2 linked regions of the Homo sapiens genome follow. The protein of the gene in region 1 purifies or fractionates together with the protein of each later gene. This does not show direct contact. Each region holds a gene or a part of one and is shown on either strand. Other genes may lie near its edges.

Evidence for each region.
Region 2: the proteins of AMHR2 (region 1) and KCNN4 purify together in Homo sapiens (affinity purification with mass spectrometry; one large-scale study listed by BioGRID and IntAct). This does not show direct contact.

The regions. Positions count from the first base shown.
Region 1 is NC_000012.12:53,429,514-53,432,172, forward strand, and holds the end of AMHR2 (anti-Muellerian hormone type-2 receptor isoform 1 precursor), read left to right. Parts: coding exon 1-112; coding exon of another isoform or gene 113-132; intron 133-317; coding exon 318-465; intron 466-632; coding exon 633-769; intron 770-1,663; coding exon 1,664-1,960; 3' UTR 1,961-2,159; downstream 2,160-2,659. UniProt on the Homo sapiens protein: On ligand binding, forms a receptor complex consisting of two type II and two type I transmembrane serine/threonine kinases.
Region 2 is NC_000019.10:43,770,974-43,774,473, forward strand, and holds part of KCNN4 (intermediate conductance calcium-activated potassium channel protein 4), read right to left. Parts: coding exon 3,219-3,500; intron 2,928-3,218; exon of another isoform or gene 2,927-2,927; coding exon of another isoform or gene 2,830-2,926; exon of another isoform or gene 2,824-2,829; coding exon of another isoform or gene 2,813-2,823; intron 1,163-2,812; coding exon 1,027-1,162; intron 1-1,026. UniProt on the Homo sapiens protein: Intermediate conductance calcium-activated potassium channel that mediates the voltage-independent transmembrane transfer of potassium across the cell membrane through a constitutive interaction with calmodulin which binds the intracellular calcium allowing its opening.

The DNA of each region.
Region 1 (2,659 bases):
AGATGGATCGTGTGCCATTGGAGACCTGGGCCTTGCCTTGGTGCTCCCTGGCCTCACTCAGCCCCCTGCCTGGACCCCTACTCAACCACAAGGCCCAGCTGCCATCATGGAAGTGAGTTCTCTGGATAACTGGTGAGGCCCAGGATGATGTTGGTGCTGCTGATGGCAATGCAGCCATTGTGTGTCAACAGTTGTAGCAATACCTATAGCATTTGGGACATTGCTGAGTCTGTAGTTGGGGGGATATTGCATGGACCATTGCTGCAATGAGGATTGCCACAGAGATGATTCTTGGCCCTTCGTGCCTTGCTCTCCAGGCTGGCACCCAGAGGTACATGGCACCAGAGCTCTTGGACAAGACTCTGGACCTACAGGATTGGGGCATGGCCCTCCGACGAGCTGATATTTACTCTTTGGCTCTGCTCCTGTGGGAGATACTGAGCCGCTGCCCAGATTTGAGGCCTGGTAAGGATGGGTGGTACAGTCCCCTCTCCTGGGCTCCCCCCCGCCCATTCTAGGTTCACCCCAACCTGACCTGGCCTGAGAAAGCTCTGCTCTTCCCTGTCTTGCCCTTTCTACATGGTAGGCACCCCTAGGACTAACTGATACCCAGCCCCTCTACCTTCCTCCAGACAGCAGTCCACCACCCTTCCAACTGGCCTATGAGGCAGAACTGGGCAATACCCCTACCTCTGATGAGCTATGGGCCTTGGCAGTGCAGGAGAGGAGGCGTCCCTACATCCCATCCACCTGGCGCTGCTTTGCCACAGTAAGAGGCCTAGGCTGTTGGTCTGGGAACCTGGAGAGTGGGGGCTGGGCATGGGCTTCAAGGACGTCTCTGCCAGAGTGTCTGTCTACTCCTATCTCCACTTATCTCCCATCACTCCTTGGTTCATGCTCAGCTGGAACTGGGCAAGCCTCCTCTCCCCGTCAGTTCATCCTCTTCCACCCTAAGTCTCACACAGTCGATTCCATCTACCTGAGACACACACCTTCCTCCTGCTCAACCTTGCCCAGCCTGTCTCTCCTCTCTGCCATCAGTTAGCCCTGTTCCTCAGTCCCCTTCTCCAGGAAGCCCTCCTTGGCTTTGCTCTTGCCCTGAGCTCTGCCCCATCTGCTCTCCTAATACAGTAAAGCCCAAAAATCAATTCAATAAGTCCCCATTCTGTCATACATTGATGATGTTTCTGCTGTGACCCAATAAAAGGCAGTTCTAGGTATAAAAGGTGAAAGCAGTGGCGTCACAGTGAAAGTTCAGGGCTTTGCACAAATACTTTTTTAACAAAATGTCCCTTCTGTACCTGATCTGAAATTTCCACGGCACAAGTCTTAGGTTGGCTGACAGAAACTGGGCATTACTTGCAGAAGACTCTGGCTCTCTGAGAGGAAAGAGAGTAATTTCCCATTAGCATATTAAGCTGTCAACCTACATTAGCTCCTCAGAGGAAACAGTGGGCTATACAGAAGGCCCCCAGAGAGCCTGTTTCATAGGGAGCAAGACTCAGAGGGCTGGAATTCAGCAAGAGGGAGAGGAGGGAGGCTCCAGGAAAGATCAGAAGTGGATGTTGAAAGCAGGAGAGTGATGGACACTGAAGATGGCTTTTAACCCTGGGGCCCACTCAAGATCCTAGGGTCAACCCTTCCTCCCTGTCATTCCCCCCAGGACCCTGATGGGCTGAGGGAGCTCCTAGAAGACTGTTGGGATGCAGACCCAGAAGCACGGCTGACAGCTGAGTGTGTACAGCAGCGCCTGGCTGCCTTGGCCCATCCTCAAGAGAGCCACCCCTTTCCAGAGAGCTGTCCACGTGGCTGCCCACCTCTCTGCCCAGAAGACTGTACTTCAATTCCTGCCCCTACCATCCTCCCCTGTAGGCCTCAGCGGAGTGCCTGCCACTTCAGCGTTCAGCAAGGCCCTTGTTCCAGGAATCCTCAGCCTGCCTGTACCCTTTCTCCTGTGTAAATATGCAGTTTATGTGTCATCAATGTACATGCCAACATAAATATGGCGATTGTATAGCTGTCTTGTCTGCCTCATCACTGCATTTCCCACCTGCCGAATCCTTGGATTCTTCTGCGGGCATCCAGTCCACATCAGTTCTGACCAGTGACTTGGGGTAGGTGTGCACAGGAAAGAGAATAAAGTCAGCTTTCCTGATGCATATCCTTGGTCCTTCCTCTATTCCTGTAATCCAGGGACCCTCTTGTCTCTCTTCTTTTCCACTAACATTTATTTTTATTTATTTATCTGGTTTCTTTTTTTGGAGACAGAGTCTCTGTCCAGTCTGGAGTGCAATGACACGATCACGGCTCACTGCAGCCTTGTCCTCCCTGGGCTCTTGTGATCCTCCTGCCTCAGCCTCCTGAGTAGGAGGGACCACAGGCATGGACCACGATACCCAGCTATTTTTTTTTTTTTTGAGACAGAGTCTCACTCTGTCACCCAGGCTGGAGTGCAGTGGCACAGTCTCGGCTCGGTGCAAGCTCCGCCTCCCGGGTTCACGCCATTCTCCTGCCTCAGCCTCCCGAGCAGCTGGGACTACAGGCGCCCACCACCACACCCGGCTAATTTTTTTTATTTTTAGTAGAGACGGGGTTTCACCCTGTTAGCCAGGATGGTCTCCATCTCCTGACCTTGTGATCTGCCCACCTCGGCCTCCCA
Region 2 (3,500 bases), on another chromosome or scaffold:
ACATCCTTCACCTGTGCACCTAGGGATTGGGGGATGAATATGTCCTTCCTAGGCCCACATCTGGGCTAGGTGCTGGTGGCTTAGGTCCCCGAGGGTGAGGGGAACCCGATCTTGTAGGGAGGTGAAGGCCAAGGCATTAGGTGCTAGTCTCTAGAGGGGGCCAGGGCTGGGTGGGAGGACCTGAGTGACTGGGTCTATGGAGGGAAGGAGGTGGATGTCAGGGTTCAGGAAGAGGCTGACTCAGGCTGCAGAGCCTCTGCCTCATCCTTGAGGGCAACAGGAGCTGGTGTGGGGTGGCTGGATGCCTGGCCACCCCTAGACCTGTTTACTGAGCACCTCCTGTGGGCTGGGCACTGTTGGAAGCACTTTACGTAGTTGGACCCATTTAATCATCTCAGCAAGCCCATGAGGAGCATCAGCATCCCCATTTTATAGATGAGGAAAGTGAGGCCCCGAGAGATCACGTGGCTCGCCTGAGCTCCCCAGCCAGGAAGTGGCAGCCGCAGGATTCGGACCCAGGTAGCCTGGCCCCACAGGTATGCACTTGATAACTGGACTCTACACCCTTGATGGAGGCTGGGAGACGATTTCCCAGTTCTGGAAGAAAATGGGGCTGCGAAGTCAGGAGCCTGGGTCCCTGAGGAGGATAAGGGCTGGGGCCCTAGGTTCTAGAGAGAGCAAGGACTTAGGGGCTGGATTCCTAGGTCTGATTTTTTATTTTATTTTTTAAGAGACAGGGTCTCACTCTGCCACCCAGGCTGGAGTGCAGCAGTATGATCATAGCTCACTGTACCCTCAAACTCTTGGGCTCAAGTGATCCTCCCACCTTGGCCTCCCAAAATATTGGGATTACAGGTGAGTATCTTGTTCTTGAAGAGAGAATGGGGCTCTGGGGGCCCCAGACACTCAAGTTTCTCAGGAGCTGTCCCTGAGAGCCTGTGTTGAACCCATTTAATCATGGCTTCCTGGGGCCAGAGGATGACCAGTTTGGGATAGGGATCATGTCCCCAAGGCAGCTGTACTCACCATGACTCCAGTGCACAGGCAGACGATCTTGCCCCACATGGTGCCCGGCACCACGTCACCATAGCCGATGGTCAGGAATGTGATGGGGATCAGCCAAAGTGTGTCTGAAAGGTGCCCAGTGGCATTAACAGCCTGCCTATGGGGAAGGGTAGGTTAGTTCTAAAACCCCACCATAGAGGTTTCCATGATATTCACTCCCCTTCCCTCTATACCCTCCCATCCCCTTCCCTCTGGTTCCCTCCCTTCCCCTCCCAGTATACACCCATAGTCCTAAGAATCACCTGGACAAAAAGCCATTAAGTTCTGAGCTTTGGAAAGCCTGCATGGCCTCCTCTCTGCTGTGTGACCTGGGCAAGTTGCTTAGCCACTCTGGGATTTGAGACTGGGTCTGGCCAATCCCAATGCCGGTATGGTCTCAGCTAGGCTACCCGGGCTGCTGTAGCATTCAGAGCGTGTGGTTGAGGGTGGAGAGTCGATAGGGGGCCAAAACCCAGTCAGACCCTGACTGGTGGCTACATCCACCCAGAGGAAGGGGTATATTTTTCTAATTTCCACAAAGATGCTGTGTGGTCCAGAAGTGGCCCTATCAGGACCAAAAAGGACTCTAAAAAGGCTTGGTGGGACTCGGCCTTCCTTTCCTCTCACTTCACAGAGGAGACATTTAAGTCCAGCCATGGAAGGGGTTGAAACATTGAGATTTGTCTAACTTTGTCCACAGGCCCCTTGCCGCAAGACCAGCAGGGAAAGCTTCATTCATGAGGGCCCCTGACACCCCAGACCCACCGGGTTGGAGTTTCTAGGAGCGAAGATGGAATCTGTACTGTTCACAAACCCCACCCCCTCATTCCGAAGTACATTCTAGTTTCAGGACTTCTGCCTTGGAATGTGGAACTTTGACTTCCTCCCCATTCTCCCATCATTCAATTGAGAAACATGGTGGGGGGATCATTCATTAATCCTGATTCTGACCAATTTCCCAATTGTGAAAACTAAGATCCTGGAAGGTGAAGGAGTTTAAACTCATGACAGAGGGCGGGCATGGTAATCCCAGCACTTTGGGAGGCTTAGGCAGGAGGATCACTTGAAATCAAGAGTTCAAAACCAGCCTGGGCAACACGGTAACGTGGTCTCTACTAAAAATACAAAAACTAGTCAGGCATGGTGGTGCACATCCGTAATCCCAGCCACTAGGGAGGCTGAGGCATGAGAATTGCTTGAAGCCGGGAGGCAGAGGTTGCAGGGAGCAGAGATTGTGCCACTGCACGCTAGCCTGGATAATTGAGACTCCAGATCAAAAAACAAGAACTGCCAGGGAGACTACAGATGGTGGAACGTGACATGCATTTTTCAGATGAGGAAACTGAGGCTCAGAGAGGAGAGATCTAAAGCCAGATCTTCTCATTCTCCTCCTGCCCTGAAGGATCTTTGCCACATACACTAGACCAGAGGTTCTCAACCTTGGTTGGGCCATAGAATCACCTGGAAGGCTTGCTAAAGTGGATTGCTGGCCCTACCCTCCAGGATTCAGTAGGTCTGGAAGGGACCTGAGAGTTTTCATTTGCAAGTTCCCAGGTGATGCTGCTGGTCTTGAAATCACACTTTGAGGACCACTGGCTGAGATCACTCCCAACCTCGTTTTTCTCTGAAAGGGATAGAAATTGAGGCGCGGCATCGGGTTACACAGTATCTAGCTGGCAACCAGGATCTAGTTCCAATTCCCTGCTTGGAATTATTTTCCAGAGCAGTTCCAAATCATCCCCTTCCTAGGATCACAAAAAGCACCTACCTACAGTGCATTCCGTGCTAATTGGGAAAATATGTCTCCTTCCTCCAAGGCAGAGGCAACCCTTTAGGCAGGTCCCAGAGATAGGTTCGGAGACCGAACAGATGGCCTGTAAACCTGAGGCAGAGGTCAGGCAGCCGGAAGGGAGGGGCTTTCTAGGGTCTGTGTGTGCGTTTGGGGAGACTGAAGGCTGCAGGTGGAGGATTGGCTGGGGGCTTGTCTGTTGGTTCCTCTCACCCCAGTTGATGGGAGTGTGGGCAAATTTCAGCCAGCAAGAGGAGAAGGGGTCAAAGTGTGAACTTTCTCCACTGCTTGGTCCTAGGGGGCCTCAACCTGCACCGCGGCACAGGACGGCCGCCGTGGCTGTCCGGGGTTCCCCCCTGCGCATTTATGCCTCCATCACCCTCACCTCTCGGCCACGGACAGCACCCAGGCGGTGGTCAGCCAGAGGCCAAGCGTGAGGCCGAGCAGCAGGCGGCCAGGGTGCGTGTTCATGTAAAGCTTGGCCACGAACCAGTGGCGGAAGCGGACTTGATTGAGAGCGCCGATGCTGCGGTAGGAAGCGTTGAGCAGGACGCCGCTGCGCAGGAGCACGGCGCGGGGCACCAGGTAGAGACGCAGCAGCATGGCCAGGGACAGCAGCGCTTCCCCTTGGCCCAGGAATCCCGGCCAGGGCTGCGGGGAGGTCAGC